Regions from separate parts of the Homo sapiens genome. Here all the other regions are linked to region 1. The links come from fine-mapping of genetic effects on gene expression. A gene starts in region 1. Each other region holds a variant in brackets. All regions are shown on one strand. Distances are between the middles of the regions. Region 1 holds the start of PLXNC1 (plexin C1). Region 2 overlaps PLXNC1 (plexin C1). Region 3 overlaps PLXNC1 (plexin C1). Region 4 holds the start of PLXNC1-AS1 (PLXNC1 antisense RNA 1). Region 5 holds the start of LOC124902987 (a long non-coding RNA gene). Region 6 overlaps LOC124902986 (a long non-coding RNA gene).

Region 1 (4,089 bases):
CTCCAGGTCTCGGGGACCGTCCGAGAGGAGCCTTCGGACGGCCGCCCGCGGTGTGAACCTGAGACCTGGTAAATGTCACCCGGCTGTACCCCCGCCCCGCCGCTCGCCCCCAGCTCGTTCTGCCTCGGCGGCGGCGGCGGCTCCCCGGCAGCAGCGCTCTCCGCGGCGCCCCGGGGGCAGGACTTACGCAGTGGCTCTCGGCCGTCTTGAAGTCCCAGCTGACCCTCTTGGCGCGCGCCTGGATCTCACTCATTCTGAAGAGGCAGAGCGCCGTGGTGGTGGGGGAGCGCCGCTCCTGGCCCTCTCCAGCGGCCGCGCTGAACACTCCCGCCCAGACGTCCAGGGCCTCCACTAGGCTGGAGGAGAGGAGCAGGCGGCGGCCGTCGGGGTGGCCGTGGCCGCAGTCGAGGGATGCCTGGCCCTGGAACAGCACCTCGGTGCTCTGCGCGATGCGCGCCATGCTGGGCCAGCCGGTGGCAGCGCCGCTCGTGTAGTTGTAGGGGTAGTAGGGGAAGTAGATGCTGCCGTTCCAGAGAAAGGCGTCCACGAAGTGCAGGCTGCCCGCGCCCTCGCACAGCTTGAGGCGCCCCAGCTCCTGCGTGGCCAGGCTGCGCCCCTCCGTGTCCTTGAGCGCGATGGCCGTGTCGTGGTCGGATGCCGCGGGGTTGCAGCGGCTCGCCGTCTCCGGCTCAGGCAGCACGTAGGTGGCGGCCACCGCCAGGTACCAGCGGTTGTTCCGGCCCGCGCGGTACACCACGCCGGCCGTCGAGCCCTGCGGGTGGCACGACACCACCTCGGTGCCGTTGCGCAGGGAGTTGCGGCTCAGGTTGCCCAGGGGCCGCACCTCGCAGGCGCCCCGGTCGAAGGTCCAGCCGGTGAGCAGCAGCCCCCCGAGGCCGGCCGCCCCCTCGCGGTAGGGCAGCAGCAGCTTGCTGAAGCTGCTCCCGGGCCGGGGCCGCGCGGGGGGCGCCAGCGAGACCGGCTCTGTGCAGTTGCCCGCTTGGTCCCGGTACAGGCGCGAGAGGCTGTGCTCCAGGCTGTAGTCCAGCTGGTCCAGGCAGCTGCCGCTCGCCACAAACACGCCGTCCTCCTGGCTCGCCGCGATGGCTCCGATGGCTTGCTCCGACCGCCACACGGGCTCGTCCGCGCCCCGGCCGGGAGCCGCCAGTGCCAGCAGATAGGCGAGCAGGGGCAGTGGCGCTGCGGGGCGCGGGGGGCGCGGCGGCGCCTTCCTCCGGGAGACCTCCATGGGGCTGGGGGGGCCGCCCCCGGGCAGGGCGCGCGGCGGCGACGGCGGCTCAGGCGCGCGGCAACGGAGACGCGGGCGGCGGCGGCGGCGGTTCCTGCGCGCGCTCGGGCTCCCGCGGCCGCCCCATCCCCGCAGCTCGCCCAGGAAGGAGAGCGGGGAGGGCGGCGCGCGGCAGGCTCGCTCCGGCAGCCTGTGCAGCGGCGGTGGCGGCAGCAAGCCCTGCGCGCTCCGGCACCGTTTCCTCCTCGCCCTCCTTCGCCGGAGAGTTCCTGTGTGCAGCGCTGGCGCTCGCGGGGAGGCGCGGAGGGGAAGGGAGGGGACGGGCGGAGAGGAGCGAGGCGGGCGGGGAGGGCTGGAGAGGTTGGGTGCGCTTGTGCGTTTCACTTTCCCATTGTGAAAGTGGGATGCAACTGGCCCCCTTCCTCATCCTCTCTTCCTCCTCCGCCCTCCGCCTCCTGCCCGCCCGCCCGCCCTCCCTCCACGCCCATCTCCCCTCCCCTCTTGATTCGGTGAGATAGGGAGGAGGGAGGTCTCGTAATTTGGGTTACTGTGTAGGTGGCCTCTTTCATCTATTCATAACAAAGCTCAGCCGCCCGCCGCGGCCGCCGCGGCCGCCACCATCGCCCCCTTGGCTCGCCTGGGGCTCCCGGGGCGCGCTAACGGCGCACGGAGCGGGCTCCCGCGCCCGTCCGCCCGCGGTGCTGCTCCAACGCCCGGTTTTGTTTACGACAGCAGCCGGGTCGGGGATACGCCAGGCGCGCGGAGCGAGGATCCAGGGTGCGAAGGGGTTGCAGCTGAGGCCCCGGGCTCGGGCCACAGGGCTGCTGCGAGAGCGGCTGACAGGTGTGGAGCGGCGAGAGGGAGGCCCCGGGGAGGCGCGCGGGAGACATGGCCGAGCCGGAGACTCCGGGGACCAAGGCGCCCCTGTGACAGGGTGTGGGTTTCCCCGGGTCGGATGAGTGAGGTGGCAGAAAGGCAGGCGCCACACTCTCGTTCTGGACAATCCCCAGGGCCGGAGCGCCCATATTTGCAAAGGTTCTCTAATCTCCCTTGGCAACAGAGTCCCAGGCTCTCAAGCCTAGCACTTGGAAAGTTCTGCTCACCATCTAACCTAATGAGCGGGGCTAACATTTACTGAGCACTTACTACGTGCCGGGTGCGCTTGTGAACTCACCACATGGGTTAAGACTCATAATTCTCATAACAGCCCTATTAATTAGTGACTGTTATTGTCATCCCTACTTAGTAGTCCAGGAGAATGGTTATAGAAAGGTTGTGGAACGTGCTGGCATTCTACTGCTGGTAGATATCAGAGCCGAGATTCGAATCCATATCTAGCCCCAGGGCCTCTTACATACCTGGCTCTAGTTAAGTGCCACCTGTGGCCATTGCCATAATCCCCCAGAGATCATTCTCTGTAGTGAGACTGAAAAGTTCCTCAAGTTAAATGCACCAACCAGCCCCCGCCCTGCTTTCTACTATTAGACCCAAGTCCCCGTATTTCCCTCGAGGCTCTCCATCTGTCTCATCATTACCCACTTTTATCCTTTGGACCCCCTGAGGTCTCACCACCTCACCCAGAGGGTGAATAACAGCTGGGTTGCCCCCACAGCCGCCAAGAATTTCTGAAGCACAGGGAATCATTGCCCACTGGGGAATAGGTTCATGATTTCTCGGAATGGGGCTTCCCAGAGGATGCACAAATGCCTCCCAGCTTCCCGGGGCAGCTGCGGGCACCATCAGCACCCTTACAGTCTGGCAGATGAGCCAGGGGGTGCATAGGAGTGGAGGGTGCTGAGGACCTCTATGGATCGTTGGGAAATGATCTCTGTTCCTTCCCAGGCTATTTCCAGACCCCAGGCCCCAGGGAGGGCAATTGGCTGCTATCCCCTTTCTTCCTTCCCTCCAAGTTCCCCAGCTCGAGATGCTGTTTTGGGAAGGGAAAGGAATGAGGTGGCTTTTGTCCCATGCTGAGTCCTGCCGAAGGTTGCAGGTTTCAAACTTCTCCAACAGTGCTTCAAGTTCTCCCCAGTGCTGAGGGATATGGCAGGAGTTCTGGAAGGCTTAAGGAAAGAAGGGTGAGGTGGAGGGAGAAGAAGAGAAGTGTGAGTTTCTGCTCTAGATGTGAAGTTCAAGGATCCTATCATTTCAGCAGTGGCTCTCATACACTAAAGTCAGAGTGGTCATCTTTTCATTCATAAGCCTTTCATTTGCAATTGGATAACATTATCTTTGCCTGGCAGGAGGCAGAAAATGCCTTCCCACGAGATATGAGGTTGCCCTTTGTGCTGTGATGATGGTGTTGGAGTGTCCATAAGGAGAGGGGAGGAAGAAGGGGAAAGGCCTAAAGTACCCAGTTGGTGTTAATCGGGACATCTCAGGCAAGACAAGTCAGATGTTTCACCTGCTCCAAAATATCTGGCCTTGCTCCCCCACTCCCTGCCCTCCTGGAATGCTTTCAGAATTTTTGCACCTCTGGAAGTGGGAAGATCAATATTTTAAAAACCTCATCCGAAGCTCAGAGACCCCCTCCACAGCATAGTAGGGGATTTATGCGCTGGTGTTTTGACAGTTTTCCCTGTGACTGATGCAGAACTCAGTGACCTTCACTGGCTCCGTGAACCAGCGGTGGCAGTGTCGCTATGTGCTGAGAAGCAACAGTTCAATTCCATTCCAGAGATAGTTTTACTTCACTGGTAACCAAGTCATTTCTCTAAGTCCCGTAGAGTTGGTACAATCAGTCACAGACCATCTTGGGAGCTATTTGGATTAAACATACTCTGTGGTGCGGCATTTTGATCACTACTCAGTTCATTGCTGCTTCATTTTGAAAAAGAAAC
Region 2 (4,089 bases), 32 kb before region 1:
TCCATCACCCAGGCTAGGGTACAGTGGTTTGATCATGGCTCACTGCAGCCTTAAACTCCTGGCCTCAAGTGATCCTCCTGCCTCAGCCTCCCAAAGTGCTGGGGTGACAGGCATGAGCCACTATGCCCGGTCAGTAACACATTTCATTAACACTGTTTTCTACACTTGTGTGTATGTATATGTACACAATTCTATGCACCTAGACAGAGATCATGCAAAGAATAGTGACTAATGCATAGTAGAGACTCATTAACAATTAGTTTCTTTTCCCCTTCCCTTGGTGACAGCACTTGGTAAAGATGAAGAAAATATAAAAATATATTACTTTTATTTCAGTAAGCAGAAGCAAAAGAAAAGCCAAAACAGCAAGATAAATGAAGAGGGGGAGGGGGAGTACCATATATTTCCTGGTTCATGAATGTGTATGAGACTGTGGCCTGATATTAACCCCAAATTCCAAAGCCAGTCCCATTGGGTATATTCATAAATGCATCTAACCGTTCAGTGCCCACACAATAAATGTGTAAATTCAGTTACCTTGCTGATTATGCGCCCATTTCCAAGCACACCCTCCTCTGAAAAACTTGGCACTGGAAATATAGCCAATAATAAAATTGTCTAAATAGATAATATTTCTTGCTTACTTACTGACAGTCAGTAAGGTTTTTAATTCCGTGCCTGTGAACCACTGCGGGTCTCCTCAAAGCCTGGGGCACTGCTTAAACTCTGTAGTTCAAAGTAAAAGCTTTGCTACTAGATAATGACATCAATTAAACCATTTTTATTCATAAATCAGAAGCAATAACTAGTATTTCTACCTACCTCTTTCCCAGCTGTTAGATAAATGTAGATATTCTTCACAGGATCAGGAACGAGTTTGTAGAAAACAGGTGTCTCTTCTTTAATTTCATAGATAACCTCTGGACAATTTGAAGTCAAATTCTCACCAAGAATAACCTATTTTTTTTTTTCAAAAAGAGAAACATGATTTCTATTTAATACTTTTTTTTTTTTTTGAGACGGAATCTCGCTCTGTCGCCAGGCTGGAATGCATTGGCATGATCTTGGCTCACTGCAACCTCCGCCTCCCAGGTTCAAGCAATTCCACTGCCTCAGCCTCCCAAGTAGCTGGGACTATAGATGCACCACACCCAGCTAATTTTTTTTAGTAGAGATGGGGTTTCACTACGTTGGCCAGGATGGTTTTGATCTCCTGACCTCGTGATCCACCCGCCTCAGCCTCCCAAAGTGCTGGGGTAACAGGTGTGAGCCACCACTTCCGGCCTCTATTCAACACTTTGAATAGCAGGGTGGCAAAAATTGTAGCTTAATCATAAAGCTACATCCTTTTTCACTCACTACAAATACTGCCTAAGGTACCATGCTCCTTAATCATCCTCCCACATCTCAGTCCTCAACAAGGCTGGTAATAACAAGCATAATATTTCTTCTTTTGTAAAGGCAAAGTTACCAAAAATGAACAAACAAAAAAAGCCGCTCTTCAGGGCTGGGGTAGTATCCTCATAT[G/A]TGGAAGCTGGCTGACCACAATTTCTGACCATGTCTGGCCCTATAGGAAGCCACAAGTGACAGCTTCATTAGTGCTGTCTCAAGAGAGACTGGAAATTAAAGGAAGTAGCTCCCACATGTATTTGCACAGGATACTCTGATCATCATACAGTTAGAAGTGACCCAGATTAACTTGGCAGATACAGACAAGTAGGTTTGTGTTCACATATAAAATATACGCAAGTGTGACTCAGTACTCAGTGGTTTTGAAATTGGACACACCTGAGCTTCATCCATCTTCAGTCAACAAACATCTACCCAACACCCATTATGTACCCAGCACTGTTCTGGGTGTTTGAAAAATGGCAGTGAACAAAATGGGGAAGGGAGAGCTCCTGACCTCATAGAACTTACATTCCTGTGTGTGTATGGTGGGGTGAGTAACAGCAGACTATTAATAAGAAAAAAGTAAATTATAAAATATAGTGGGGTCAGGGGTTAAGAGAATATATGTTCAGGGTAGGTGTCACTGAAAAGGTGATATTTATTTAGACTTGCAGGAGATGAGTTATTTTCATACTTGAATGAAACATGTTCTTAAAAGCAGCCCTGTCAGTGCAAAGAAACTAAAATGGGAGGAGGCCAGGGTGGCTTCAGTGGAGAGAGGTAGAGGAGTGAACAGTAAGATAGTAAGATAACAGGGGAATGATAATCAAGGGTCTTGTGGGCCTGTGTAAACAGCCTGCCTTTTACTGTAGATGAGAGAGAGGAGGCCATGGCAGGGCTTTGGGTCAAGGAGCAAGAGGAGATGGTAAGAAGGCAGGGTTTGAAGTGTGGGTATGAAGAGCCATCGGGAGACTCGAATCCTATAGTGCTAGAGAAGTATAATGGTGGCTTAAGCTTGAGTTTGCATCCTGCCTCCATCCTTTAAGTAGCTGCACTACTTTGAACTGGTAACTTAATCTCCCTAGGCCTCAATTTCCTCATCTCTAAAATGGGGCTAATAGTGCCTTCCTTATTACAGTTTTGTAAGGATCAAATAAGAACTATGAAAGATGCTTAGCACATAATCAATAGTCAATAGATAATAATCTGTTACTAGATTGCAAGCTCCTTTTGCGCAGGGACCATGTCATTTTTTTTTTTTTTTTTTTTTGAGATGGAGTCTTACTCAGTCGCCCAGACTGGAGTGCAGTGGTGCGATCTTGGCTCACTGCAACCTCTGCTTCCCAGGTTCAAGCCATTCTCTTGCCTCAGCCTCCTGAATAGCTGGGACTACAGACATGCGCCACCACACCCAGCTAATTTTTGTATTTTTAGTAGAGACGGGGTTTCACCATGTTGGCCAGGCTGGTCTTGAACTCCTGACCTGAGGTGATCCGCTCGCCTCTGCCTCCCAAAGTGGTGGGATTACAGGCGTGAGCCACCGTGCCTGGCCTGGGACCATGTCTTAATCACCTTTGTACCTAACCTTTAATCTTCTTTGTACCTAACACAATTTGTACCCACTACTTTGAAAAGTGAAGGTGTTCAACATTTTGTCAGTTTGAACACATCCAGATAGATTATCTGTATTCATATCTCTACCACTGTAGACATCAGCCACATTGGGCGCATGGTTTCAAAAGAAAAATTTGGCACCTGAGATTCTTTTTGGACAAAGTCTACTTCACACATCTACTAATCAATAATATGCCTGTTCCCACATATCCTGATGGCAGTTAGGGATTTGCTGTTTAGCCAAAGGCTTCTTATCAATTTTGCACAGAGCAACTTCCCGCATTCACTTCTCCTTTCCAGGACCTGGGCCCGAGTCTAGCTTTGCCCTGCGATCAGTGACTTCCTTCCATCATCTGCTTGGGCCAAGCCCAGGTGGATTTGGTGCAAATAGTGGCTCACTTGAAGCCCTTGGACTGCTCATCAAATTCAGCAGCAGCTTTGTAAAAGTCAATCTCACTAACCAAACATATGAAATATGACTTCTTAAAAGCTCTTTTTAAAACAGAAGCAGTTAGGTCCTAAGGGAGGTGGGAAAGGTGTGTGTCTCAAGTCATTTTAAAACGACTTTATAGCTGCACTATCAAATATGACAGCCGCTAGCCACATAATGGCTATTTAAATTTAATTAAAAATTTACATTTAATTAAAAACACTAGCAACATTTCAAGTGTTCACTAGCTACCTAAGGTGACTGGCTACCATACTGGAGAGTACAGATGTAGAACATTTCTATCACTACAGAAAGTTCTCTTGGCCAACACTGCTCTACAGAATCCTGTAAGTGGAGCCAAGGGACAGGCACTGACCAAGGTATGGGCTTGCCAGGATTTGCCGTCTCTAATTCATTAGCTGTATTAATCAGCTCAGATTCAGTTGATCTGGTTCTGGAAAGCAGTTGTATAGGGAAAGAGAAACAGGAAGCCAGTTTTTGTTTTTTTTAAACAAACACTGATAGAAATATTATCAAGGAAGGGTCAAGAGAAGAGAAGCTGCTGCCCTGGTATCTCTTCAGGAATTCATCATGGCAAAAGCATCATTGGGCAGCACCACCCATAATGTATTCTTGCCAATAAAGTTGAAACT
Region 3 (4,089 bases), 120 kb before region 1:
AATGAACAATGGAATGTAATTGAAGTAACAGAGAATGACTTAATCGGGACAGTGGGTTGTTTAATTACGGGGCTAATGGATCTTCTGCAAGGACAAACTAAATGGAACAGAAGCAGCCAGCACTGGTAGGCAGAGCACTGTTAAAGGAAGTATACTAGTAAGAAACTCCTGGTGGAGACACCTAGGGCTCTGTTGTATATGAGATATTTTATTAAACGTAATTGTCCCAAAATGGTAACTGCTAGAGAAAGAGACAGACTGGGGTAGGCTGGCATAAACCTTCAATAAATCAAATTGGAGGCATTAATATTTCTGCAGGCATGTACTTGTGCTTTTTCAAGAATTTCTAATAATCTTGAAAACTTTCTTATAGATAGGAGAATGAAGGCAATAATATTTTTGTCGGAACAGTTTTCCAGGGTGCCAAGATGCTCTCTCTCAGATACAGCAGATTGGCAAGCTCGTTTTCTAAGAGTTCAAAAAACCATTTCACACTTAACTTTGATTACAAGTCAACCTTCTCTTGCTAATTCAGCACGCTTGCTACGAGTTATTGGTTTTTCTCATCTCTTCCTGAAAGTGAAGCAAATGTCCCTTCTCCCATGTGAAATCCTCAAACTTTCACTAACTCCTCCAAAGTTCCACTCTTGACAAAACGTAAGCTGAGTGAGTCTGAGATACTCCATCAACAAAATCAAACATGTTCAAAATTTTGCAAAGGGGAAAAAAACCCAGCAGAGCAATAGGTCTTATTATCGGCCGGATGCAGTTGCTCACACCTGTAATCCCAGCACTTCGGGAGGACAAGGCAGGTGGATCACTTGAGGCCAGGAGTTCAAGACCAGGCTAGCCAACACGGCGAAAACCCGTTTCTACTAAAAATACAAGCATTAGCCTGGCATGATGGCAGGTGCCTATAATCCCAGGTATTTGGGAGGCTGAGGCAGGAGAATCGCTTGAACCCCAGAGGCGGAGGTTGCAGTGAGCCAAGACTGCGCCACTGCACTCCAGCCTGCACTAGAGTGGTATTCCTTAAATTAAAAAAAAAAAAAAAAAAAAAAAAGGTCTTATTCTCTTCCAGCTGTCTGATCTGAATTCCTAGATATTAAGGAAAGACTAAAGTCCTGTGTGTGCACAGCCCTACCCCTGGTGCTGACATTAGGGAGGATGCAGATATCAGGGCATTCTGTCTCACTGTTGCCTCATTAAACACCAGCCTGGAATGCTTGATAGAGAAGGATGGTTTCTTATGGTCCTGGAGGAAGTATGGCTCTAGGGGACTTTGCTTGGATTTTTGGCAAGACAGAGGAATTTTCTTCTCAATATGCAAGAAGAGAACATTACTTCCCAGGGCCTCTTTGTTAGTGTCATGATTTCATGTATAAGAAATTGGCAAGATGCCTTTATGTTCTAGAAAATCCCCCACACCTCAGGGAGAACACATCCTCATCTGAGAGGTGTGAAAGCTAACTTTTAGATTGCTATATGAGGTGCTGTGCTTCTGAGCATTTAGCTGAACACGAGTGTGGGGGCCTTTTTTCCAAACGTGTCCCTGCCTTGGCACCAGGTTCTGTCATTTCAAGTGGTTCGTGAGGATGCTCTTGATTTCCGACTTTCCTTTCCTTGAAAGAATCTGCCCCCAACCTCCCACCTCCCCAGCACACAAGGACACACAGAATCAGTTTGTTCACCGCACCTTGGTTTTCAATTACATAAACCACCTCAGGCAAATTTGGGAAATCAAGTCCTAAAATGGCTGGGTGTACATGCTTGGGAGGGGTAGGTGGGGGAAGTGAAAAAGAAGGGGAGGAGGGAAGGGAGGAAGAAAGAAAATTAGAAATATGGTGGTTCAGGCTGGGGGAAATGCCTGAAAGGAAATGAAAAACTTAAATTTTTTATATTGACCTTCTGCTAACAGTTTGTCACACAAGCATAGAACGGATCATGTGCCTTCTCTGCAGCTTCTCGTACAACTGCCAACCATGAAAGGGGGGCTGGGCCAGGCCCCATAAGAGGCACTAACAATCATTTTTAAAGGCAAGGCCCCTAAAAACAAGTGGCCCATTCCTTTTCAAGGCTCAAATCTTATGTACCGGCAAATCTGAATTTGAAAAGGAAGATTTATGTGGATTTCTGAAATCATGATTTTCCATTACCCTTTTCCCCAGGGGCTATAAAGAAAAAAAAATTTCAAGAGTCGACATGAATTCCTTCAGCATCAAGTAACATTATGATGATGAGTCGAGTGTTAACAAATCAGAAACACATGGTCTTAATTGACTGTGAAATAAATAATGTTTCGAAATGAAAGGGAGAAAACACGTTCAGATGTAAAGCATTAAAAAGGCTTCAAAACCTCAAAAGTTGCCTCAGACATCTGACCTCTTCCTGATTCCAACCCATCTTCTCCTTTCCTGTCTTTCCTGTTTGGGTCCGGTGTTGTCTCATGACTG[A/G]AATGCTGGAGGATTCCCGACTATAATCATTTGCAAATATTTCTCTTTGGAGACCTTTGGGGCTTCTAAAACGTCTTAAAGTAAAGGCATGAACATCTTCTAGGTTAGGAATAACAAGCCCAGGATCAGCGAAAGGTGAGTCAACAGGCCCTGTGCAAAGTTTGTCTCTTGTTCTCCAAGATACCCAGTGGTGTCCAGGCTGAACACACATCAGAGATATCTGGAAGGTTTACAAAATACATCCACGCCTGGGCTCCCTCCCCAGAGATTCTGATTCAGTCAGTCCCGAGGGAAAGCCCGGGCACTGGTATATTTGCACCTGCATTTTAAACAAGGGTTCAATGAGATCTGGATCAAATGGAATAAAGTTTTAGGTAGCACTCACATGCCTGGCAATGTTCTAAGTGCTTTTTATAATACTGACTCTTAATCCTCAAAACACCTCATGAGATGGGTAGGAACCATGACCATCATTTCCATTTCACATGTGAGGAGAATGAGGCATAGAGAGGTTTAGAAACTTGCCCAACATTACACAGCTAACCAGTGGCAGAGGCAGGATTCCAAAATGTCTGGCCCCAGAGTCCATGCTGTTAACCACTCTACCAACAGTTGTTAAGCAGCACCCGCAGCATCAGGAAGCTGGTTAGGGAAGTGAATTCTCAGGCCACAGCCTGGATTTACTGCATCGGAAACTCCAGCATGCTGCCTAGCGACTGGTGTTTAGTGAGCTTTCTGGGCGATTCTGCTAGATGCTCAAGTTTGAGAACCAATGCAGCCCACTCTCCGGCCTCTCAGATGTGGATGGGTGTATTGATACAATTCAGAACGCTGAGAAGTGTTGACTTTCAGCTCAGCTTCCCGCTCTCGGATGGCAGCTGTGCATGGTGCCATCTTTGATGGAGAAGTGAGCCGCATCTGGCAGTGGCAGAAAACTTGAAACAGCTGACCTACGGACTATTCTCCCACCAGAGGACATAACCATAACACGCTCCACGGCAAAGTGGTGCCTTCTCCAATTAGGGAATGAATTCTTCCCAGATGACACTGCAGTCCCCACCATCCAGAGCAAAGCCACAGAAGACTCAGCTCTCTTAATGAGCAATTCCCAAACCCCACTGTAATCTTTTCCTCCTCCACTAACGAGATCGTGAAGAAGCCCAGAATCTTCATAAAGCTAAAGATCAAACCAAAACACAGCAATCTCTTCTCCAAGTCTCTACTAACAGAAAAGCATAGAAAATTCCTAATTCTAAAGTTACCTTCCCTGCTTGGCTCCCTCTCTGAAATTCCCAAATGTGCCCCAAACTGGGCTTTCTTTCTTTCTTTAGGAAGAGCATGGGGTGGGTGCGGTGGGGATGAATTAGAAAGAAGTTCTCAAGCGGGTGAAACCCTCCAGCAGCTAGGCAATCATCTTCCTGTAGTGATTTACAGCGTTCCTCTAAAAATATCTATGAGATCACAGTACATTAAGTGCATGACACCAAACATTTGTAACTAATCCATGAAAATAAAGGGCGTCACGTTGCATGGGGAACGTGGTGGAATTTGTCTTGTGTTATCATTCTAAAATAAGACGGCCTCAATTTGATTGAAATATATCTTCACACATTGTCTTCCCAGAGCAGAGCCATTT
Region 4 (4,089 bases), 27 kb before region 1:
TACTGTGTTTTATGTTTCAACAAAAGGGAGGAAGAATATCTTCACTCTTTTGCCTGTAGACAGATATAAACTATCTCTGGAAAGATACCCATGAAACTACTATCATTGGTTGCCTTGGAAGTCAAGACCAGGTGCCTTTCACGGAATATTTTCTTGGTTCTTTTGAGTTTTAAACAATATCATTGTATTACCTTAAAAATAAATATATAACATTTAAATTTAAAAATCCTTGAGGGTGAGTGAGTCAAATTGTTTTTCTTTTTGCTAGATTATGCAAACAATGCTCTCCATAATCCTGAGGACAGGACAAGAGGAAGTTTTAGTTTTCACCACAAAGGTCCCAAATGTGCTACACAGAGGGGTGAGGGATTTCTGCTTCCGTGGCCCCTGGAGTCTCATCTCTCTCAGATGACTAAAGGACAGGTCAGTGTTCATATCATCTCTCACCTAGCCCGAGCCCCAGCCCACAGGCACTAATGGAACACTTGGACTTTCTAATTGCAAACTTCAGGAGAATATCAACACACAGACAAAAGCCAGCAAGACTGGAGCAAGGGAAACGTTCCTTCCTCAGCTCAGTTTAGGTGGGCAGCCTCGGAAAAAGAACATGATCAGTGAAGCAATGCAGGAAGTAACAATGAGTCACAAAAACCCAAAACGGGTTGAATTTTGCATAAGAGAAATCTCATCCAATTCACACACACAATCCTTGGGCACGATGTGGATTTTTATCTTCCAGGATACGACCTTAATATAGATCTAATCTGAAGTCAATCTGAACCTTCTCCATGTGTATGCTTGTATACTCCTTTATCTTTCAAGTCTCCAACATCACCTCCTCTGAGAAGCCTTCCCTGATCACTTCTCCGCTGAACACCTCTGTCACTCTCTACCCATCACTGTATTTTCTTCATAGCACTATCTGAAGTGTCTTTATCGCTGATTAATCCATTTACTTGTTTTCTGTCTTTTTCTTCCCACCAGCAGAGCAAGGGCATTGTCTGTTTTGTTCACCTTTGTATATTCAGCACCCAGAACAGTGCCTGGCACATACAAGGTGCCCAGTAGATATTTATTAAATGAAAAACGACGCTATTAGCATTCAAGATTTTATAGGGCTCTTCAGCTTTTTCCAGCTGAAGCCTGTGTAGAAAACAAATTTTCTCTGATGGAGAATTTCAGTTCGTGTCAACATATTGTTTCTGTTGATGTCTTCCTGAAGCCTCATGGTAGACTATTAACGAGCCTTGGGATTTTTGTTGCATATAAAACTCCCAACTACACTGCTGAAATTAACTGAGTGGAGATTTCAACACCATACAATTGTAAGACAGGTTCAAGATCACCCACAGGAAGGATATCATGGTGAGGAAAATGAGGGGGGAGAAAAATTAAACAAAAAACTATTTTTTTTTCTTTACGATTACCATGAGATGGAAAAGCCACGGGTGTTCAAAAAGCTATAATATTTTATGCCAAATTTAATTTCCTATGCCTCACTCTGTGGGGCTAACCAGTTGAAGGGCAAACAAGCCAACCCTTTCATTTATTATTATTTTTTTCCATAAGCAGTTTCTGAGAAATGCTGGGAAGGAGACTTAAACCACACATACACACACACAAGCTCACACACACATATGCACGTGCATGCCTGCATACATATACACACACGTGCATGCCTGTGCATGCGTGCACACACACACACATGCACACACAGGAGAAAGCAAGGTAAGTATTTAATGTGCCTCAGTAGTTAGGAGTAACAAAGATGAAATATAAAGATCAAGGCAAATTTCTCTTTTGTTTCCAATCTACTTATTGCAGTGTAGGTAGTAAGAGAAGCATACAGTCTGAACCACAGGTTCTAGATTTGTGGATTATATGGGACTAAAAGTTTCAAACTGGGGAGTCCCTGCAAACTCATAAATTGCAATTAATGAGGTGGGGAGAACTTGAAGCAGGCTTCACATGACATCCTAAACAGCCAACCAATGAAC[C/G]CACTTCCAAGTTTTGACACTTCCTCCTGTTTTAACTTTTTGGTCTGTTAGCTCAGTCATCCCCACCACCACCACCACTTCCGGTCCCAGGTCCTGTTCTAGGTTCCCCAAGTTCTCCTATTCCTTATTTGAACATCTTCTGGGTATATAGTACAGCTTGCCTTTACAAAAGATTTTTTTCTCTGACATTCATTCAAAAACTTCAATAACCAGAGTCAAGGCAGACTCTTTAGGCAGTACAGAGTTTTTGCTTCTGTTTGAATTCAGACAGAACTTTTTGGAACCGGTTTAATTTTGCTGTGATTTGAATAAACGAAATCCCTGAGTGGCGCCGTGTGCAGTGGCTCATGCCTGTAATCCCAGCTCTTTGGAAGGCCGAGGTGGGAGGATCTCTTGAGCCTAGGAGTTTGAGACCAGCCTGGGCAACATGGCAAAACCCTGTCCATACAAAAAAATTAGCCAGGTGTGGGGGCACAGGTCTGTAGTCCCAGCTACTCAAGAGGCTGAGGTGGGAGGATCGCTTAAGCCTGGGAGACAGAGGTTGTAGTGAGCCGAGACTGCACCACTGCACTCCAGCCTGGGCAACAGAGCCAGACCTTGGCTCAAAAAAGAAAAAAAAATAAACAAAAGAAAGCCATTAAGTGGGAGTAGAGGGCCACATAGGTAACCAGTCTGAGCCCAAGCACATAGGAAATACCTCAAGACTGGATATGGGGACAGGATAGAGCTATGTGATATAGCTTCCTGTATCCTGAACCCTACTGCAGTCCCTGGGAGGTCGGGGAGACACTAGTCTTTACTGCTGACACCATTCAAAACAGCAACTTGAATACAGAATTCCTACCTTTCCTACAAAGGAGCCCACTGGGGTAAAGCTGGGGCCCCAAAGGAGATTCAGAGACCCCCGTGGACTACGCGCAGCTCAGAGAGGAGCGGGCTCTGCACTCAGCTGGGTTGCCAGGAAGCCATCCCCAAATAGGAACAAACTAAACCACAGGGTTCTCGGCCCCTTCTTATGAAACCTCAAACATCTGCATCTTGGTATCAACCCTTATACCCCAGTATTAGAAAGAAATATAACAAAAACCAGCTCTCAAACTCTACTAAGCTCTGTAAGAGTTAATGCAGTTTAGTTGGGGGATAGAAGCTCGGGCTCTGGGACAGATTATTTTGGTTCAGAGCACCTTGAAAAAGATACCTAACCTCTCGAGGCCTCAGGTTTTTTCATTTATAAAGTGGGGATGGTGAGAGTATTGACTGGTAAGGATTAAACCAGTTAACCCGTGCAGATGCTGGTTCTAATGCCCAGCACACAGGAAGAGCTCAGAAATGTTAGCGATTATTCTTCCTTGCCCATTGCCTTCTTATCTTTTATGCTTACACGAAGGTTAATGGGCATGCATAAAGTTACAAATTTCAAATTTCATGCATATTCTGTTATTACTTACTTTACCACCTGGAAAAGCTCAAAATATGCAATTCTGCCTTTGAAATAAGGACAATTTTCTATGGGCAACAGAGTCAGCTCAAAGGAATCCAAACCACATGATAGGCTGTACTATAATCTGGAGAAAGACTCGGTGTGTGTTTACAGAAATGCATACATTGTGCAACACGTGCAGTGTGAATTCCCCAAAGCTGAGTTCAGTGTGACCATACTTTTCAGCTGATCTCAGTGGAGATGCTGACGACTGAAAAAAACCCGGCATGCAATCATGTTCCGAAAAGAAGCAGGATGGGGAAATAACTGCGGGGGTGACTAGACATAACTCACCTCACGACCATGGGACGGTACACCGATAAAATAAAAGAGCAGATTAGATGCTCTCAAAGGACCCTTTGAGCTCTAAATTCCTTCTATTTCCCCAAAATCTTATAAAGGGACTTAGGTCTATAGGCAAGAGAAGGAGGACAGTAAAGGTACTGGCATACTGTAGCCTTTAGTTTCTTCACAGATTATCAGTGAAATCTTACCTTTGGAGGTAATGCCGTCTTCCTTGGAAAATGCATGTCTTTAAAGATACTTTAAAAGTGATCCAGTATCTTAGCTTAAGTTCAAAATAATGTACCCAAATAATAGAATATGATATAG
Region 5 (4,089 bases), 91 kb before region 1:
ATTGGATTTATCTGGGAGAGTTTATTTTGGGGTTTCCATCTCCCCCTTAGGGAACATCTTGAAAAGGTTGATTCTGCTTTTCATTTTGATAGCTCCCAATATTTCCCCCAAAGAATTCAAAACAGCTTAAAGTATCTAAAGTCTATAAAATGAAAGAGGTAAGAAAGAAGCCTTTTATCACAAGCAGGAGGGACACATAGTAAAGAGTGTCATATATCTATATCAAAAACCTAGGCAAACATTTCAGCTGTGAGTTTCTCAGCAGCCATGGTGAAGGGAAAAAGGTGTGCTCATAGCATTCACGATGAGCATGGGAAGCAAATGTCTTGTCAGGTATGCATTTTTCTAGGAGTAAATCCTAAGGAGAACTCGGTGAGAGGAATTTGGAATGACCACTGTTTCTGAATTTACTTGAATAAAATCAATGATCTTTGGGCATATGACCTTTAACCACAATGAGAAAAAGATTATGAATCTAGAAAGTACCTGATCCAGGTGGTAGCAGGAAATATAAGGGAACAATGTGGCAGAGCAATGTAGGATAAGGATCCCACAGAAGAGCAGTTCCCACCATCAAACTGGATACACACATCCTTCATTTCTTTCCGGCTTGATGGAAGAGAGAATTTCATGTGGGTGTCATTTAGCACATGGCTAACCTGTATCCTAGAAAAGAGTAGAAAAAGAACTCTCACATGACACAGACACTTAGCACAGTTGATTACCCAAGGTGACAGCAAATGAATTTCACTTGAACTACAACACTTCATGAAGGAGCAGAACAGCTGCAGGCAACTACTGACTCATGAGGGGCCAGTGACCCAAGTTGGTATTATTAGGGGTTGGGTTCCTCTTTCTTTAGTACATTTTTATCTTTCTTATTTGCATTGCCCTTAGAAGTGGGAAAGGAAGGAGGTGTAACCATTGCCCTGAAGAAGTACTAATAGAAAGCAGAACATGAACTGGGGGTTACATTATGTTAAGAATTGTGGATAATTCTGTTGAGTATCATAATGGCACTATGGCTTATCTGTTAGAGAGGTACTGAAGTATTTAGCAGTGAAGGATATGGTGTTTGGTTCTTATCATGCCCCCCCAAAAATCCCAGATAAGATAGATGAAGCAAGATTGGCAAAATGTTGATAGGCTTTGAAACCGGGAATGGCTACAGAGAGGTTCATTACACTCATCTCTCTTGTATTATGTTTGAGTTTCCATAATAAAAAGCTTAAGAAAAAAAGCCCTAGTCAAGCACTGAGAGGGTAAAACACAGCACCAGACAGAGATGGAAATTCTGCTGTTCAAAGGGGGCCTAAACCAAGAGCCCAGGCATCTCAGAATCAATCAGCATTGGGGCCAACATGCTCCCTAAGGAGTATCCAGGCTGGGACTTAGCTGGGGCTGTCCAGGGTGCTCCTGATGTCCAACAGCTGATGCTTGGCGCCCTTTCAGAGTCAGAGCGAAGCTTTCTCCGACATTCCCGCTGTCACCTGCAGCTTCCTCTGTGTGTCTACAATGATCCTCTAAAGCACAAATCATTAAGCCTGGGTTGTGTCTGAATAATGCTCAGTATAACCGTGCTACATGAGAATCTGTTATTACTACTTAAAGGCCATGTGCATGATGATTAACTTTAATGCTATCACTAACCCTTTAGGATAAGGCAAATTCAAAAACATCTGAGTCAGTTTGTACTTACGCCACCTCAGACGCACATTTTCAGGTTTATATTCAGAGCAAAGCTCTAGGAAATTTATCATAAAGTGGTTGAACATTAAAATTCAAACTTGTTTATAAATTTCAGAAGAAGAGAGGTGAAAATGTAGGTCATTCCACTACTAGTATTTTTCTCTTTAAAATAATTACCCATTTTAAAAGTACCATATTAAAAGAGCTTGGGATTACAGCCTGGGCTCAGGTATAGGATTAACTGAGTATTATGTTGACTGCTTGTGAACTTGGCTTCACCACACAGATGTGGTTACTGAAATGCGACATGCAGAAAGGTCTCCTAGTCATTTAATTTAATAACTGCAGTATCTCAAGACACATTCGGAATTAAAATGAGAACATAAAGAGTCAGAAACAGGGTAATGCTCCGAAAAACTACTTATTTTCCATGAAGTTGATTGCCTTTCAGTGAATACACAGGTGTCTAACTTCACAGATTTCGCTACATAAAATGAAAGATTTTTGCAATAAGGTATTTAGCCAGGATAAACAGCACAAAAAAACCTATGTTGCATAGATACAGCCTCTAATGTGTGCTTGATAATTCTGGCAAATAGCAGAACACAGGCAAGCCACCAATGAGCAGCTTTTCTCATCAAGATCACAGATATT[C/A]CAAATTTACTGCTATGAGGGGAAGGGCATGGCAGTGATGTGCAGAAAATGAATTAAAGAAGAAAATTCAGTAAATAAGCATAGCAGATTAGAATGCTGTACAAATCTGTTTTAGTAGTTAAAAATCAAAACATCACGCTTCAGCAGATTGTCTTAAATGCATTTCCATGATGAAAATAAGCTTAGTATTATACTCTATGTAGACTGTAACATCTTTTACTTCAAATTAGCCCAAACTTATATGAGTTAACAAGCAGAAAACTCAAATAATCTGTTGTGTTATTTAATAACTGCAGTTATCACATCACTTTTTTTTTTTCGAAGGGGGAGTAACCATTTGCACAAGGACATCGGTAGAAATTGAAAAGTCTTTCTCCAAGTTTCACCGATGTGATGAGTTTGGGAAAGAAGTGACAGAAATAATAATGTTCAAGAGATACATTGACCAGATATTTATGTTGGGGTGTTCTTTTTTACTACCATTATATGTAGTAGTAATTTAATTTTTGGAGGCTGAAACCAAACCAGTAAAGAGAAGGCTACAAAGAATAAAATGTCCACATAAAATGGATCCAAGAGGTTTTGTTTTTTCAACTTTGGGTGGCACACTGGAAGAGCTGCTCCAAAAAATTCCTCATCAAATTTCAAGGTACTCAACTATTTTTCCAAGTGCATCACCTAAAGAATGATGTTTGCTACTCCATATACTTGATTTTGTTACTGAAAATGAATCAAGACCCCAAACAGGCAACATCCTGAAATGACTATATACTGAGATTTTTGGGGAATAACACAGAACAGATTCTCTCACAATGAACTTCAGATCTGTTGTGAAAATTATTTTACGTGTTGGAATTATATTATGTCAAATACTCTGACTAATTGGCCTGCTTTGGGGCATGGCAATAATTTGACTATATTAAGGTTATAATCACACTGATATTCCTTTGGCACAGGTTTGAGCGTTACGTTACCGAGGATAAATTATTAGTATTTCGACTCACACATCCTTATCACAGGTACTGGTTCCTTTCAGGATCATTGTGATGTTCGATGCCCGGGTAAAGTTTGCTCCCGTTACTATCACGTTGCTTTTCCCTAATGTCGATACTTTCTGTGGCTCAATGGACTTAATGTAGAAGACCTATTGGAAAGAAAAGATTAAAACAGGAGATCAAAGCTAAGAAATGGCATCGCTCCAAAAAAATCTGTTTATACGCTGCAGTTCGAAGAAATCACTGGGAAATTACAACATTTTGCGAACACAAGCAGACAGTGTTTAATGAAATCAATGAATTCAAGGAAGAGGGCTGCAGATTCATGTCTCTCAACATGTGACAGCATGAGGTCAAACCAATTAGTCTTTGTCTCACAAGACAGTTGAAAATACAGTTGAAAAGTCTGATATTCTGTCTGAAGAGTGAGGTATCACTAGAGTTTTGAAAATGTTTACTGCCTTACAGCCTCTGGAGGCTCACAATGTAAGCAAAATCAAGGAAAAGAAAGAGAGTCCATTGACCGTAGGCCAATGACAGACTCATCGTTAAGTTGAAATAAATGTCATTCCAGATAAATTCAGTTCCCAAGAAAGCAGTCATATTTTTGTTACAGTGAGGCTATTTGAATCCAGGAGGATACTGCAGGGGGAAAAACCTCAAGAAATCAACCTGTTCAGTCACCTACTATCAAGTAGTTGGATGTCTAAACCACTGTGGCCAACCAAGGTTTGTAGATACCACAACCTCC
Region 6 (4,089 bases), 33 kb after region 1:
CAAAAGTATAGTATGCCTCTGTTGTACTAGGAATACTTAAGCAGAGCGAATTCAAGAAACTTAAAATCACAAAAAGAACTGAACAGATTCTACCTGTTCTGAACCCTGAATGGATTCTCCTGGTTCCCATTACTAGCCTGTGTTCCCTCAAACATGGTGTGTGTGTGTGTGTGTGTGTGTGTGTGTGTGTGTAACTCACAGACCCTTGGTGATCTTCTGAAAGCCTCCATCAGTTTCCTCTGGCCCTTATTCTTCTGGTCCAAAGTTCAAGACTTTGCTTCTTACTAAAGGATATCTTTCTTTCTTTTTCTTTTCTTTTCTTTTTTTTTTTTTTTTTGAGATGGAGTCTTGCTCTGTCACCCAGGCTGGAGTGCAGTGGTGCAATCTTGGCTCACTGCAACCTCCGCCTCACAGGTTCAAGTGATTCTCCTGCCTCAGCCTCCAGAGTAACTGGGACTACAGGCACGTGCCACCACACCTGGCTAATGTTTGTATTTTCAGTAAAGACAGGTTTTCGCCATATTGGCCAGGCTGGTCTCCAACTCCTGACCTCAAGTGATCCACCTGCTTCAGTCTCCCAAAGTGCTGGGATTACAGGCGTGAGCCACTGTGCCCGGCCCTGAGGGTATCTTTCAAAATCTCATCTTGTCCCTACTTTTTGGAAGATTGATTTTTGTGGACTGAATCTGAAATGATTCTAATTATTTGTTCTCCTTAAGACTCGTATTAAACAATCATCATATGATTTTTGCTTAGTTTAATCTTTATTTAAACATGATTGTGTGTTATTTTCTTAATTTAACTTCAAATTCCAAATACATTAGGGATAGGAAGCTCTTTGAAGAGCAAGAACATTTTCTTATTTTTTATATTTCTAGTGCCCTATGCAGTGCCTGGCACTTATTTGCCTTAAATAAATGGTGTTGGGTAAAGGAATACAACTGATGTAATAATTTCAAGGTGCAGAGTTAAAGTTTATTCCAGTGGTAGTTCATAGAATGGAAGACCATTACTCATATAATAGGCCACCTTTGTATAACCCTTATTGTATACCGGGCTCTAGTCTAGCACTTTATATATGTTCACTAATTTCATCTTTACAACAATCCTATTCAATAGATACTGTCATCCTGGTATTACAGATGAGGAAATTACGGTGCAGAGAAGTCAAATGACTTGCCCATGATCATCACACAGCCAGGAAATGAGAAAACTAGGATTCAAATTCAAATACTCTGGCTCCAATTCATGTGTCTGTTGTCTCTCTACTCTACTATTCTTCATGATCTACTAATTAGGGAGAAAATGGAATTTTTCCCCCTATCTCACATCCTACACAAAAATAACATATTAGATGATTTCATATGATCTTCTGCCAATCAAATAGCTAAAAGGCAATAAATAATCAACATGGGAATTACCAGTGAATTTGGGCCAGCATTGAGGCACATAAACCATGGGAATTAGTGAGGGAAGACAGAAGTTGTCTTCATCTCCTGGAGGTATGTACATGTTTATGAGTGTGCGTGTACGTGTATGGGTGAGGAGGGATTGCGAGGGAAGAGAGAAGAAAGAGAAGGTGGAGAAAGGGCAGAGAAATCTTAGAAAAGGAGGAACTCCCTTTCTAGCCTTTGTCTCTGAGGCAGCCCCAGTCACAGGAGTGCAGGGGTAGGTCCTAGTATCAGATAATAGCCACTCCTGTGGCTTATGGTCACCTGATTATTGCCACTCAGAGATGTAGACCCGGTTTTCCAGATCTTTAATTTTTAAAGAGAACAAGAAACCTGCATTTTTATGTGAAATTTCCTGATTTTAAAAACAAAACACCTCTCCCTACTGAAGGCCAAGTCTATCAGCTTGAAGACTCAGATCTTAGACTTCAGGAGGTTCCAGGATTCAGAACTGTAAAGACTTATTTATGATCCAGAATTAAATGGAAATGTCTACATCTGAGTTACGGCAATGAACCGTCTGATTTTTGTGGCCCCTCCCCAGGAGCTGAGTTGGATTTGTTGCAGAATTCCTACTCGTATTTTCCAAATATCATGCACGTAGGCCCCACATCACAGTTTCTTCCTGCGTTTGCCTACCATGCAT[A/G]TCATGATTCACTGAATGCTTTTCTCTTTATTGGCTCTATATTAATTCCCTTTTAAAAACTTAGGCCAACATAGCCTATAATAAAATCATAGGTTTCATGTGCTAGACAGATTTTACTCTAAGTGCATTAAAATAAATAGACAGCTAGTAGAATAAATATTGCTCATTTTGTCTACCACTTAAAATCGTCCTCTGATAATATGCTTTTCATCATTGGAAAGCATTGCCATTCTGAAAAAGACTCTTCAGTCAAGGCTAAGATGGAACGTTAGAGAAGGGGAAAGAGACATTGATTGTGCTAGGCTGGGAGAGGAGGAGCAGGAGGATCCCTGAGAGAGACAAATTTTATTCCACTCGATAAGAAATATGGGAACTTTATAGCTTTACTGTTAAGGATGCACTGGGATTTTATGAAAGAACTCCCCCGCCCCCATCACTGGTTTAGAAAAATCTCTGCCTATCTCCCATATTTTATTTGCCTGTTATCTCCCTACTACTAAAAACAATTTGCATGAAAACCATCAGACTCTTAGCTCACAGGAGTCCTTGGGCTCCTGCTGTTTTCTTGCTTGCTCAGGCTGGTGCTTTGTCTGTGGTTTAATCACAAACTCCTGCTTTGGGTACCGTTAGGAACCAGCAAGTAGTGGAGCCAAGTTTCAGACACGTGGGGACGTGGCATTTCCATCTAGAATCCTTGAAGGCTGATTCCCAGGAGAGAATCCTTGGAAATGTACCCTCAGGAGGGCTGGAAATGAAGTGACTGTAAGCATGCAGGGAGGTGGGGACTGAATTTTATAAAGTAAGTGGTACAAGGGGCTTTCTACTCTAGGGTGGTAGAGCGGGGAGTTTTGTGTCACTGCCAGGAAAGAGTCCTTGTTCCAAGCATCTTGCTTTGGGCAGAAATGACAAATGGACATTCACCAAGGTTCAGTCCTTGGTACTCTTGGTGGGTGACACTTCAAGACGCTGCTAGATAACACTTACCCTGGAGAGAATTTGTTTTCTAGGAGTGATGATGAATATTCTTTCTTCCTTTTTTTTTTTTTTTTTTTGAGGCAAGGTCTTGCTCTGTCACCCAGGTTAGAGTGCAGTGTCATGACCATGACTCACTACATCCTTGACCTCCTGGGCTTAAGCGAGCCTTCTTCCTCAGGCTCCTGTAGGTGGAATTACAGGTGTGCACCACTACGATCAGCTGATTTTTAAATTTTTTGTAGAGATGGGGTCCCATTATATTGCCCAGGCTGGTCTCAAACTCCTGGGCTCAAGCGATCCTCCTGTCTTGACTTCCCAAAGTACTGGGATTATAGGCATGAGCCGCCATGTTTGGCCTATCTTGCTTTTTAAAGTAAAATTTAAAAAAAAAACTATAAAAACAATTTTTCAGGACAGAGACCACGTTTATGTTCTGCCCATCATTAAATTGCTAGTGATGCCTCGTGTTTAATAAGTGCTTGAATTTTAGTTCAATTAAATCAACTCACTTAAATTATTTATTAAGTTAGCACATTTTGGGAGAAATGGAGTAGTATAAAAAGGAGATAAAAACCAGCAATAGTGCCACTAATAGATAGCCTGTTAATATTTTGCTGAATTTGCTTCTAGTCTTTTTATTTGCATATACATTTTTCCAAATACAATTTAGATCATGCTTTATGATGAATTTTGTATTCTGTCTTGAAAATTAATGTTCCACCAAGAGACATTTCCAAGATCATTAGTCTGAAGAAACATTACCTTTAATGATCATATGACACTCCAATATTGTGTGTACCATTGTTTATTTAATCATTCTCATATTGAGTGGTCAGAATGTTTTCAAGTTTTCAACTGGGACCCGGAACAATAGAGGCTCATTGCATGCATTGTGCTTTTCTTTTCTTTTCTTTTTTCCCCGAGACAGAGTTTCGCTCTGTCACCCAGGCTGCAGTGCAGTGGTGCAACCTCAGCTCACTGCAAGCTCCGCCTCCTGGGTTCACGCTATTCTCCTGC

Evidence for each region. PIP is the estimated chance that this variant, and not a neighbour inherited with it, causes the effect.
Region 2: its variant is fine-mapped to the expression of PLXNC1 in whole blood (TOPMed, PIP above 0.99).
Region 3: its variant is fine-mapped to the expression of PLXNC1 in blood mononuclear cells (TOPMed, PIP above 0.99).
Region 4: its variant is fine-mapped to the expression of PLXNC1 in whole blood (INTERVAL, PIP 0.93).
Region 5: its variant is fine-mapped to the expression of PLXNC1 in pancreas (GTEx, PIP 0.98).
Region 6: its variant is fine-mapped to the expression of PLXNC1 in whole blood (INTERVAL, PIP 0.92).

What each region holds. Positions count from the first base shown.
Region 1 is chr12:94,146,132-94,150,220 of GRCh38, reverse strand. It overlaps PLXNC1 (plexin C1), which reads right to left and starts at 1,644. Exons shown (of 31, transcript NM_005761.3): 1 at 188-1,644. The coding sequence starts at 1,249. RefSeq lists silencers at 18-157, 818-1,057, 1,188-1,417, 1,488-1,737, 1,748-1,877 and an enhancer at 518-617.
Region 2 is chr12:94,178,314-94,182,402 of GRCh38, reverse strand. PLXNC1 (plexin C1) reads right to left here. Exons shown (of 31, transcript NM_005761.3): 3 at 823-957. Among named protein-coding and RNA genes, the nearest start is that of PLXNC1-AS1, 3.9 kb to the right of the region's middle. The variant G/A (reference allele first, on the strand shown) is at 1,528.
Region 3 is chr12:94,265,563-94,269,651 of GRCh38, reverse strand. All of the region lies in intron 21 of PLXNC1 (plexin C1), which reads right to left. It also overlaps a transcript of CEP83 not described here. Among named protein-coding and RNA genes, the nearest start is that of PLXNC1-AS1, 91 kb to the right of the region's middle. The variant A/G (reference allele first, on the strand shown) is at 2,454.
Region 4 is chr12:94,172,715-94,176,803 of GRCh38, reverse strand. All of the region lies in intron 2 of PLXNC1 (plexin C1), which reads right to left. PLXNC1-AS1 (PLXNC1 antisense RNA 1) reads left to right here and starts at 341. Exons shown (of 2, transcript XR_007063411.1): 1 at 341-423. The variant C/G (reference allele first, on the strand shown) is at 1,998.
Region 5 is chr12:94,237,062-94,241,150 of GRCh38, reverse strand. PLXNC1 (plexin C1) reads right to left here. Exons shown (of 31, transcript NM_005761.3): 10 at 3,348-3,487; 11 at 487-666. LOC124902987 (a long non-coding RNA gene) reads left to right here and starts at 3,348. Exons shown (of 2, transcript XR_007063410.1): 1 at 3,348-4,067. The variant C/A (reference allele first, on the strand shown) is at 2,344.
Region 6 is chr12:94,113,471-94,117,559 of GRCh38, reverse strand. All of the region lies in intron 1 of LOC124902986 (a long non-coding RNA gene), which reads right to left. Among named protein-coding and RNA genes, the nearest start is that of PLXNC1, 33 kb to the left of the region's middle. The variant A/G (reference allele first, on the strand shown) is at 2,098.